2 linked regions of the Homo sapiens genome follow. Changing the gene in region 2 together with the main gene of any one other region gives a genetic interaction. Each region holds a gene or a part of one and is shown on either strand. Other genes may lie near its edges.

Region 1 (5,168 bases), on a different chromosome or scaffold from region 2:
GTTCTAAGTCAACTCTCCTCACTATTTTAAGCAATTGCAGTTTTGCACCAGAGATGACCAGGTTGTCCTCTGAACTTGGGCAGCTCACCAGAAATATCCCAAACGCGCACAGTCTGGTCCAGGCTGGCTGATACTACCAAGTCTTCTGTGGGGTGGAACTGAGCACACATCACATAATGGTTGTGCCCTGTTAACACACTGCAAGAAAAAAAAAAGACAATACCAAATTAGAGGTGGAAGTCAACAGACTCCTAAACTAAATACCTTTCTCCATATTCAATAAATGCTTATCCAGTTTTACTTTTATGGAGACAAAGGCAGGTCATCCTACCAATTCTGAACTAATAATAATAAGCCCAGTCAGCTATTTTAACAATAGTTCTCTTCTTGCCTCTAATGCTTTAGTATTTAAATATTACTAATTTCAGGAGGACTAAGATTACATAGCTCTTCTCTCAAAAATATTTTAAAATATCAAAATAAATGTAATCTCAGTAATCCATACTGTAAATTATCTGTGAGATTTTAGTAGGGTATCCCTTTTAAAGGCCATCACTTTATTTTTTATTGTTATTATTTTTTTGAGATGGAATTTCACTCTGTTGCCCAGGCTGGAGTGCAGTGGCGCAATCTTGGCTCACTGCAACCTCTGCCTCCCCAGTTCAAGCGATTCTCCGCCTCAGCCTCCCGAGTAGCTGGGACTATAGGCACACGCCACCGCGTCCAGCTTATTTTTGTATTTTTAGTAGAGACGGGGTTTCACCATCTTGGCCAGGCTGGTCTCGAACTTCTAACCTCAGGTGATTTGCCTGCCTTGGCCTCCCAAAGTGCTGGGATTACAGGCATGAGCCATGGCGCCGGGCCAAGGCCATCACTTTAAATGGTCCCTAACTCTTCATGGAAAGTTCTATGTAAAGCTCCAGCTCCAAACACAAAATAAGACAAAGGTCTAGACCTTGACTCAGGTTTTATGGGAAAATAATTGAAAACCAGCTAAAAGTTCTTGTTCTAAAAGGCTATATGACTTCTCTTCCTGGTAAGAAATTATTGGAAGTCCAGATTCATATATGGGATTGCCTCTACATTTATTATTTTGCACTTAAAAGCATCCTACAAATACAATCAGTAATTAATCAGCCGACATAGTCCATTTGAGAAGGGAGAAGATTGTTCTAAGAGAAGCTCATTATGAAAAACTAGGAAAAATGAAGACTCTTTTCGAGCCCTCTGCCTCCTGCTTTACCAAACACAGGTTCTAGATTGCCAGTTCCACACTCGGATGGTCTGATCATCGGAGGCACTCAGAATCCAGGGATATTCCTGAAAGATATTCCAGACAAAGGCTTTAAACATTAAACAAATCTGTTCTATCAGGTTCTTGTAATCATTTTTCTCTAAAGAACTGCATTGCTTAACGGCTCAGCTACATTAGCAAAGGGGCTGCTGCTTTTGCTATCAGGTTAGCTGTCTCCTTTTCTCTACCACTCTAACAGCTTTTCTCAACTTCGGCACTTTCACCTATAAGACTTAAGAATGGAAGCCAGTTAGAGGCACAATACATTCTCAGAGGCAGATAGTGAAACATACATTTACATTTACTTCTATATGTGTGTGTGTGTGTGTGTGTATTTATATACAGTTAATCATGTAAATTAAGATCCTGTGAAAGACTCTTCTACCTTTAACTCTAGGATGGGAATATTATTTTATTGTCTGACTTCTTTCTGTCCAGTTTCAAAAAATTCCCAGGTCTCAGCAAGCAAAGCAGAAAGTAACATGTAAAGACAATTTAGCCTTTTTGGAGTCTATAAGATTGTTGAGAAAAGGAAGTATTTCTTATTTACACTTCCTTCTTACTACACTTGCTAAGCTTTGTGTTAAACACTGAAAATAGATGGTATTTCTATTTTCAATAGAGATAGTATCTCTACCTTCAGTATTTAGCACAAAGCTTAGCAAGTATAAGGCACACACATATTTAGTGAGCTGGTAAAATGAAAGAAAATAAGGTCTTTCGTAACTTTCCAGGTAGATGGCAACTTGTTCTAGGCAAGGGTCTTCAGGAAGTCCTTTATGGCAATGACAAATAATTCCTACTTAATAAGTTATCTTATTGAGTGGTTATCATTCTCAAATGTTTAAGCTGTAATTTTCTCATTCTCTCCTATCCTAGAATTTTTTAATTAAAAAAAGAAATAATATATACTCAACCAGTAAATTGTTTATTTCATCATATTCTTTCTAACTTAATTAAAGAGACTTAATTTACTGGCAATCAAAGAATAGTGTAAGTTAATGCTAATACACAGAACTATAAGGAGATCCTGTCAGGGTGCAACTGGATTCAGAGGTTGGGAGTCTGTAATCTGCACCTCACTATCTAAATCTACTATGTTACCTGGCAGATCAAAGAAAGTAGTAAGCCTGGCTAAGGGAACAGCCTCCACCAGACCCAAAAATCCTAGGATAGAGGGGTATGATTGTTAATACTTCGAAACGTTTGTTAGCTGATCAAAATGGCATCTTAGTCTGACCTTCTTCCAGACACACCTACTACTTACTAATAATACCCTACATGGGATTAGCTGGCAAACTTTTGTTTTTTGGTTCAGCAAATCTGAAATCAAATCCCTACTTTTCCCTACAGAGAAACAATGACTTCCCATAGAATCCACTGAATCCAATAAAATTAAATTCAGTATAATCCCAAGTGCTTCCTTTTGCAGAAAGAAAAAAAGCAGAAAGGACAATACCACACAGATTGTAGAAGAGCCACTCCAAAAACAACTCTATTATTAAAACATGGGTTCTCAAGGATCAAATAAAGATTACTATGGGGAAACTAAGAATGCTCCAAAACTAGCGCCACCATGACTACTTACATGATGAAAAAACGTGGTGCGAATATAATCTAAGTGCCCAAGCAATGTGAAAAGACAGCGCCGAAGCTTGTAATTCCAAACCTGCAAAGACAAATCAAACTAAGAAACAGAAATAGTTATTGAGCCTCTAAAAGGCTCAGAGAAATTGATATCTTTACAGAGATAGAAATATGTATATAAATATAGATTTATATACATTATTTGTATTTTGGCATTTCTAAATAGGTAGGAACCTTGGTAGAAAGCCTTGTTTAAGATTTGAGGGGAAAAGAACAAGAATGAAAATATAGGTCAGATAAACAACATGGGGTTGGGGTAGGATTAGGGAAAAGCTAAAGATAAAATTATTGAAGTTTTTCAGGCTGGGCGTGGTCACTCATGCCTGTAATCCCAGCACTTTGGGAGGTCGAGGCGGGTGGATCACAAGGTCAGGAGATCGAGACCATCCTGGCTAACATAGTGAAACCCTGTCTCTACTAAAAATACAAAAAATTAGCCAGGCGTGGTGGCATGTGCCTGTAGTCCCAGCTACTCGGGAGGCTGAGGCAGGAGAATCGCTTGAACTCAGGATACAAGAGGTTGCAGTGAGCCGAAATCATGCCATTGTACTCCAGCCTGGGTAACAGAGCGAGACTCAGTCTCAAAAAAAAAAAAAAAAAAAAAAAGTTTTTCTTTCTTTGGGAAGAAGCCATCTGCATTTAATAGCAGGAGATATTTATCCAGGGCTTGATTTGCAACTCTTTTTTCTACTGCAAAATTGTGCTCTTGGCTTGAATATAGACCCCTTAAGTGCTTTACCCATCACTTTTAAAAAGTATGACAGGCTGGGCACGATGGCTCATACCTGTAATCCCAGCACTTTGGGAGGTCAAGGCAGGGGGATCACCTGAGGTCAGGAGTTTGGGACCGGCCTGGCCAACATGGGGAAACCCTGTCTCTACAAAAATACAAAAAAAAATTAGCCGGATGTGATCCCAGCTACTTGGGAGGCTGCGGCAGCAGGATCACTTGAACCTGGGAGGCGGCGTTTGCAGTGAGTTGAGATCGCTCCACTGCACTCCAGCCTGGGCGACAGAGAGAGGCTCGGTCTCAAAAAAAAAAAAAAAAGTAGGACAGATAGATACCATGACTCCAAGGGAAACAATAATATAGGGCATCAGCTTCTTAGGCTCCTAACTTGATGGCAAACAACGCCCATACATGTGTGGTCTGTACTCACCTGTCAAGCAAACAGACCTTAACTTATTACATGGAAAATACTACATTGCTCAGTAAGCCTGAGCTAAGCAGAGAAACAATATCATATTCAGATGTGAAGTTGAGTCAACTACCAAAGTACTAGGCATCAATGAACACAACTGAAGACATGAAAACCAGGATCATAAATATAAAATAGCTTATCTTCCTCATTCAGAAAATCCCCTAAAATGTACAAAAATAAGAGACCAGATGCATTTTTCTTCTTATTTAATTTTTTTAAATTTCTTTTTAATATTTGTTTATAATCAATCTGGGCCAGCTTGTTACTATTTCTAATTTTTAACTTTTCTTCAGTAAATTATAAAAATTTCATTTCCTATAACAAGTCCAGACAATCCAAAAGTATGATCTTCCAAACAAGAATGCTGAGTTCCTTAAAGGCAGGGTTCTTGTCCATCATGCTCAACACTATACCCTTACCACCTAACACAGTGCCTGACATTAGGTAAGTGCTCAGTAAGCATTATGTATGGAAATAAGAATAACATGAAAAGTTAAGGTATTCCAATACCTTTGCCTCTATCTATTCAATCAGCTACATATAAATACACATGTACACAGTAGAGTTTCACATAAAAATTAGACCATACCATAAACACTATTCTTTAACTGACTTTTTTCCCCTTATAGAGTTCAGTGTTTTAAACTTTCATATTTCTAGTTTCAAAATGTCTTGACTCCTTTAATGGCCTAAGTCAAGCTCCAAAACTGTAAATCCTTAAAAACTTATAGGGGTTTTAGATGAATACTCTGACCATTTGCTGGGCTCCTTGTCTTACTCTTTGTCAACGAGGATTATAACTAATGCTACATTTATCTGGATATAGCAAGCAATAAGATGGTCCACAGACATGACTTTTCTAGATAATCCCCCTTTTTATGGAAAAATGTTCAAGTTTATTAGTCATCAGAGAAATTAATTAAAACCACCGAATGGGCCGGGTGCGGTGGCTCACGCCTGTAATCCCAGCACTTTGGGAGGCCGAGGCAGGAAGACGACCCGAGGTCGGGAGTTCAAGACCAGCC
Region 2 (5,765 bases):
GTGAGGAAGGAGAAAAATAAAAGGGTCAAAAAGAGGCAAAGCAGAGATGTAAATAAAGCCTTTCAAAGAGTGCATTTGCTATCACAAATGGTGCTTCTTTTAGGACACAGCCCAAGCAATATTGCCTGCTTATTACCCCAAATGAAACATGAAGAATCTATCACAAAGGAGAACTTGACAAATAGTTACCTGTTTCTTAAATGACTTACCCACTCTTCCATAACACCCAGAAGGGAGCGCTATCTGAATGTCCGTTTTCACAACAGCTTTCTCCATAGGTGGTATTGTGTAATCATAGGCACTAAGAAAATATTGAAAGAAAATAACTGCAAATCTATTTATAAAATTGTTTTTATATTTTCTTTGTGACCAAGCATACAAAATTACTTTCAGTGTATTTAATGAATTAATGCAACTTTAGTTTCTAAAATCAACCTTGCTATGATGAATTACCAATTCATCTTAAAAGTTTATGAAGAAGGTAGAGGTGGCTATTTTATTATTAAAAAGACAGCTTTAGATAAAATAATTCTCCATGAATATTTTTGGTGGTGTGAAGAGATGTCAACATTGTAAATGTTTGCCCCTGAACAAAAGTTTATTGGAAACTGAGGTACTTATCAGCGTGAAAGGGCAGAAAGGCAAACTTTCAAAAGGTGGATGCTTTACAACCATAGTTTGAAAAGGAAAAAAATGAAGAAAGAACAAAGAAAAAAGGCCAAATACTACTAATAATACTAGCTATCATTGATTAAGCCTTTACTGTGTGCCAGGAACAGTTCTAATTGGTTTACATATATTAACCCATTTTATTCTCACAATGATCTGTGTGATTAGGGAAAATATGCAGAAGGAAAGGAGAAAAACGGGTGGACAAAATAAGAGATAAAGAACTGTGTTGTATCTGTCAGGCAGGGCTTGGTAGTTTACCAAGCTTAGGCTATGAATTTCCTGGCTGAGGGAGACAGCTGATCACCGTGAACGGCCCCTGGAGATGGACCTTGCTTAGGAACAGAATTCCTCTAAAGTCCACATAGCAAATGCTGCTACTCTTGATATTACTGTGGCCCTCTCCTGGGTAGAAATTTAAGAGATTTTACAATGAGCAGAACCGGAAGTTTACTTTGGAGACCTTAATTAACTCTGGTAAAGCAGTACTACCCCTTCTTTCACTGAAATCCCTCTTTAAACAGTTAAGCCCTAATTTATTGCTGATCCATTATTTCCATGTCAATTTCAGTATACAGAAAGTCACCTGTGTTTATTAGGAGTCTACTTAAGGTATCTTAAATCAAGGACTCCCCTAGGACTCAAGAAAGTGCTCCAAAATATACTTTGGAAAGGTCTAGTCAAACTATATCACTCTACTTTTATTCATCAAAATTAAGAGACTGTAGTTTTTCCAGCTACAATTGTCCATACCTACTTTCCTTTTCCTTTTTTTTCTGTTGCTATCATCAGGCACTACTTTCTCTTCTCCTGTGCTTAGACTAATAGTTCTCATGTTTGAATTATCTGAGATACTTTAAAATAAATCCCAATGCTTGGGATTTAGTATAAAATCTCCTTCCCTCTCAGCATTACTTTTCTCCTACCTTAATGGTTCTAAGAACTGGGCACAGTAGTCAGATGAAAAAAAAAAAGCCCAAAATTCGGGATAAAAAATTATATCATCTTCAAGCCTCTGGGGAAATCAATTCAGCTCTTCACAAACTCCTGCCTGTGTAAAAAGTAACACTTATCTAGTTAAGGATTGTTGTGAGGACTAAATACAACAGCATACGGAAAGTTTTTAGTACAGGTAAAACGTGCTGTAGAGATGAAAGTGTGGTAGATTACAGGCAGCTCTGCCTTTCGTTTTCAGATGCCTTCTCAAATTCCGCCCTGGGCCGGATGAATGTATAGAAAATAACTTTTTAAGGCAGATGCATCTTCGTTCATCCTTCTTAGGTATTTTCACGCTCACATCTAGGCTCTCACCTTGGTTTTTCTATTGAGCACAGCATCACCCTCGGGCCACTCGAAAGCCACCATGGGCCTTCCTCTCTATCTTCTATTTAGGAAGGGCACAATAAACGTTGCAAAGTAACGCCTTGCTAGACACCGTATAGCTATTTTACTTATTCTGCAGTCTTTGCCCAAATCTCTATTTAATTTATGCCAAAGATGAAAGCTAAAATTTTAAACACGAAAAAGGCAGAAATCCTATTTATAGCTAGTGTGTTCCTGTGATCTCTCCGGTGACTGTTTCTAGCTGTGGCAGCGGACGGCCGGCCCTTCCCAGCCTCCTCGCCGGCAGGTCCCCGCTCACCTGTACAGGTCGTAGCCCGCGGCGCGCGCGGAGCCCCGGGTGGGGGCCGTGGCGTGCTCGGAGAGCCGGGCAAAGCGGAGCTGCATGCCGCCCACCTCCGCAGGCCGGGCCCGCTTACTGGGTGAAATGGCGGGTGTCTCTTCAGAGCAGGGCATGGCAGAGCCAGAAGGCGAGCGAGGAGACCACCGGGGGAAGAGGAGAGCGCACGATGAGCGTCGCCGCAGGGAGCGCGCCAAAACCGAAATTTCCCGCCAGCCCCGCCCCACCCACCGCCCCTCCCCGGGACGAGTCCACAGTTCTGGCTGAGAGGGGAGGCGGGATTCACATTTTGGGTTTGAAGCCCTTCTCGGAAAGCAGGTTTGGGATGGGAAACTACTGGGTCCCAGTCAACTTTCCACATTCAGCGCGTGGGGCCAACTTTGAAGGGGAGCTTCTAGGGCGTCGCCCTCACACACTAGAAAGCCGCCCCCTCGCCAGGGGACCCTAATGGACCACCCCACCCCCCCCGCCCCCCGCGCGCAGAAGGACCGCTCGCCACCCTACTTCCCCCACAGCCTCAAGCCGCGTGGATTCCTTCCAGACGGCCGGAGCCCCTCCCCCGCCTTTCCTACCCGGCCCCGGCGCCGGGCTTCCCCCCGCCTTAGGAAGCTCGCCCTTCCAGCCAGCGGCCCCGACTGTACTGGCTCCGCGGCAGCCTTGGCTCAGGCGGCCAGCGCTGGACAGCGGCCGGGGAATCCCGTGCTGCGCGGCGCGGCCGAGGGGCGGGCCTGGCCCGGAGAGTACCGCGGCTTCGGCCCTCTGCCGTGCGCCTCGCGCGTTTTGCATCGCTGAGCGAAGCAGAGACGTAAGGAAATGGTAGCAGAGCGCGGGGCGAGGGCAGAGGGGAGTCATTTCCCCCAGAGTTTGGGCTGGTTGGGTCCTCGGCACCTCCGGACGTGCGCCAGGCTTCCACCCTGAAGACGCGCCCGTCCTGGGAACATGACCTCGGAAGCAGTCGCAGCCGCCGCCGGACGAGGGGCGTGGAGAGGCGGTGCCCCGGCAGCCCAGGGATGGCGCAGGCCCTGGGGCCCCAGGAAGACGGCGCCGTTGGCGTCTTGAGTCTTGCTGCCGCCTCTGGCTGCCTAGCCCTCTTGCTTTCGCTCTTCTTGTTTGCTCTGGCCCCCATTTTTCCGAGAGTGTACGCCAGGCCCGGGCCCTGCTCCTGGACTGATTTACCTGGGGCGGCACCGCCCGCAGCCATGACTCCCGGGCTCTGAGTTTAGCGGCGCCCTAAGCGCCGGAACCGCATCTCGGCGCCGGTGACAGTTATTGCGCCCGGGGCCGCTCCCCAAGCTGTGGGCAAGACACCGCGCCCGATTTCCTTTCAGCACCGAGTGTCAGACGTTGTAGTGTTTATTCGACCGGAGGCAGGGAGGGCGCTACTATCCTATCACAGGTTTGGGATAACCCAACAGAAACGCAGTGGGAACCCCTTGGCTAGGAGTCGAACAAGGATCCCGGGTCGTGGTAGTATAGTTTACAGTGGGGGATAAAGCAGTAACTTTCTAGATAGTTGTTAATAATTTTTTCTGAGCTGCAAGTATCTCCTTATTTCTCACAAAAATCTGCGAGCTGAATTGAATGGTTTTGAATTTTCAAAATTAAAAAAGCTGTGGGGCAGTTTTAGAGTATTATTGGGGAAATTTTACATTCGTTGCTATGCCTTTCCATACAGGCCCCCCCTTTTCGGTCTCCTTAACTGGTTCGTCTTCGTAGTTGGAATTCCTTTGCATGAGGCTATGGAATATACACTACCTTCTCTGGACGTTAACTATTAGCTACAGCTTGAGGACTCCCAAATTTATGCCTTTAGCAACACGATCCGAGCCCTGCAACTTTTCGACCTCATTTTGAGCCAACATTATTTTGCTCCCTTATTTTGTTGAAGTACTTTCTCCAGTTATTTACTTAAAATGTTCACATGAGAGACATACTATTTGATTCCTTGCTTGTACTAAGATGTAATGATTGTAACGACTTCATTTTCCTAGACCCAGATAAAAGTCTCGCTTCATTCATGAAACTTTTTACAATCAGTAGTGACCTCTGCCCCATCTTATCTCTTTTAACACTTACTATATCATTCATTAGTCGTTAGCCATATACTTTCATTGTGTAATCTTCTGATGTATATGCATTTTATCTCTCACATGAATTAGAGTCATAAACTTTTATGAATTCTTCAAAGCACTTACTTCAGTGTTTACACAAAAGTTACTTGTTTGGCTTATTACAATATCTAACACCAAGCAGGTTACCTTCTATTTTTTGTTGTTAATCTGTATACATAAAGTGTTTATTGTTACTTTTCAGCTGAGTTTATTTTAGACTAAAAGAGAAACGGCCATAATCTAACTGGCAAAAAGTAATAGGATTCTGAGCCAGTAAGCATTTAATAGAACGTTCTTTATGACAATAGAAATATAACTTGTTATGAACATACACCTTAAATGCAAGATACTGCAGTTAAGAACTAAACATGTTTCAACCATAATTTACTTCATAGTTTTTGTTTTTTTTTTTGAGACAGAGCCTTGCTGGAGTGCAATGGCTCGATCTCGGCTCACCCCAACCTCCTCCCAGGTTCAAGCAATTCTCCTCCTCAGCCTTCCAAGTAGCTGGAATTACAGGCATGCGCCACCACGCCTGGCTAATTTTGTATTTTTAGTAGAGATGGGGTTTCTCCATGTTGGTCAGGCTGGTCTCGAACTCCCGACCTCAGGTGATCCGCCCACCTCGGCCTCCCAAAGTGCTGGGATTACAGGCGTGAGCCACCGCACCCTGCCCTTCATGGTGTTTTCTTTATCAGACTATAGTTATCCTATCAGTCATGCTGATTAATTCAATTACCTAAGTCTAGTGCCAATTTGAACCTTCTGAAAATGCAAGTCAGTACTTGAAAAGCATGGTTGTTTTTCCTATCTTTGCCATTTTGGGGATTTCTCTCTCATTTTAACAAAGATACACATTGTTACTACTTTATGTCAGGTGTATTCTAAGTGCTTTAAAAAATATTAACTCGAGGCCAGGCGTGGTGGCTCACACCTATAATCCCAGCACTTTGGGAGGCTGAGGCGGGCGGATCACCTGAGGTCGGGAGTTCGAGACCAGCCTGACCAACATGGAGAAACCCCGTCTCTACTAAAACTACAAAATTAGCCGCATGTGATGGCACATTCATGTAATCCCAGCTACTCGGGAGGCTGAGGCAGGAGAATCGCTTGAACTCGGGAGGCGGAAGTTGCGGTGAGCTGAGATTGCGCCATTGCACTCCAGCCTGGGCAACAAGAGCAAAACGACGTCGCAAAAAAAAAAAAAAAAAAAAAATTGGCTGGGTGCAGTGGCTCACACCTGTAATCCCAGCACTTTGGGAGGTCAAGGTGGGAGGATTGCTTCAGCTCAGGAGTTCGAGACC

The links. A genetic interaction does not mean that the proteins touch.
Region 1: changes in DUT (region 2) and COPA together harm fitness less than expected from each alone (positive genetic interaction), as found in Homo sapiens cells (one large-scale study listed by BioGRID).

The regions. Positions count from the first base shown.
Region 1 is NC_000001.11:160,332,360-160,337,527, forward strand, and holds part of COPA (coatomer subunit alpha), read right to left. Parts: intron 2,964-5,168; coding exon 2,883-2,963; intron 1,321-2,882; coding exon 1,244-1,320; intron 199-1,243; coding exon 89-198; intron 1-88. UniProt on the Homo sapiens protein: The coatomer is a cytosolic protein complex that binds to dilysine motifs and reversibly associates with Golgi non-clathrin-coated vesicles, which further mediate biosynthetic protein transport from the ER, via the Golgi up to the trans Golgi network.
Region 2 is NC_000015.10:48,328,953-48,334,717, reverse strand, and holds the start of DUT (deoxyuridine 5'-triphosphate nucleotidohydrolase, mitochondrial isoform 1 precursor), read right to left. Parts: upstream 3,290-5,765; 5' UTR 3,203-3,289; coding exon 2,923-3,202; exon of another isoform or gene 2,862-2,922; intron 2,522-2,861; exon of another isoform or gene 2,467-2,521; coding exon of another isoform or gene 2,451-2,466; coding exon 2,312-2,450; intron 302-2,311; coding exon 210-301; intron 1-209. UniProt on the Homo sapiens protein: Catalyzes the cleavage of 2'-deoxyuridine 5'-triphosphate (dUTP) into 2'-deoxyuridine 5'-monophosphate (dUMP) and inorganic pyrophosphate and through its action efficiently prevents uracil misincorporation into DNA and at the same time provides dUMP, the substrate for de novo thymidylate biosynthesis.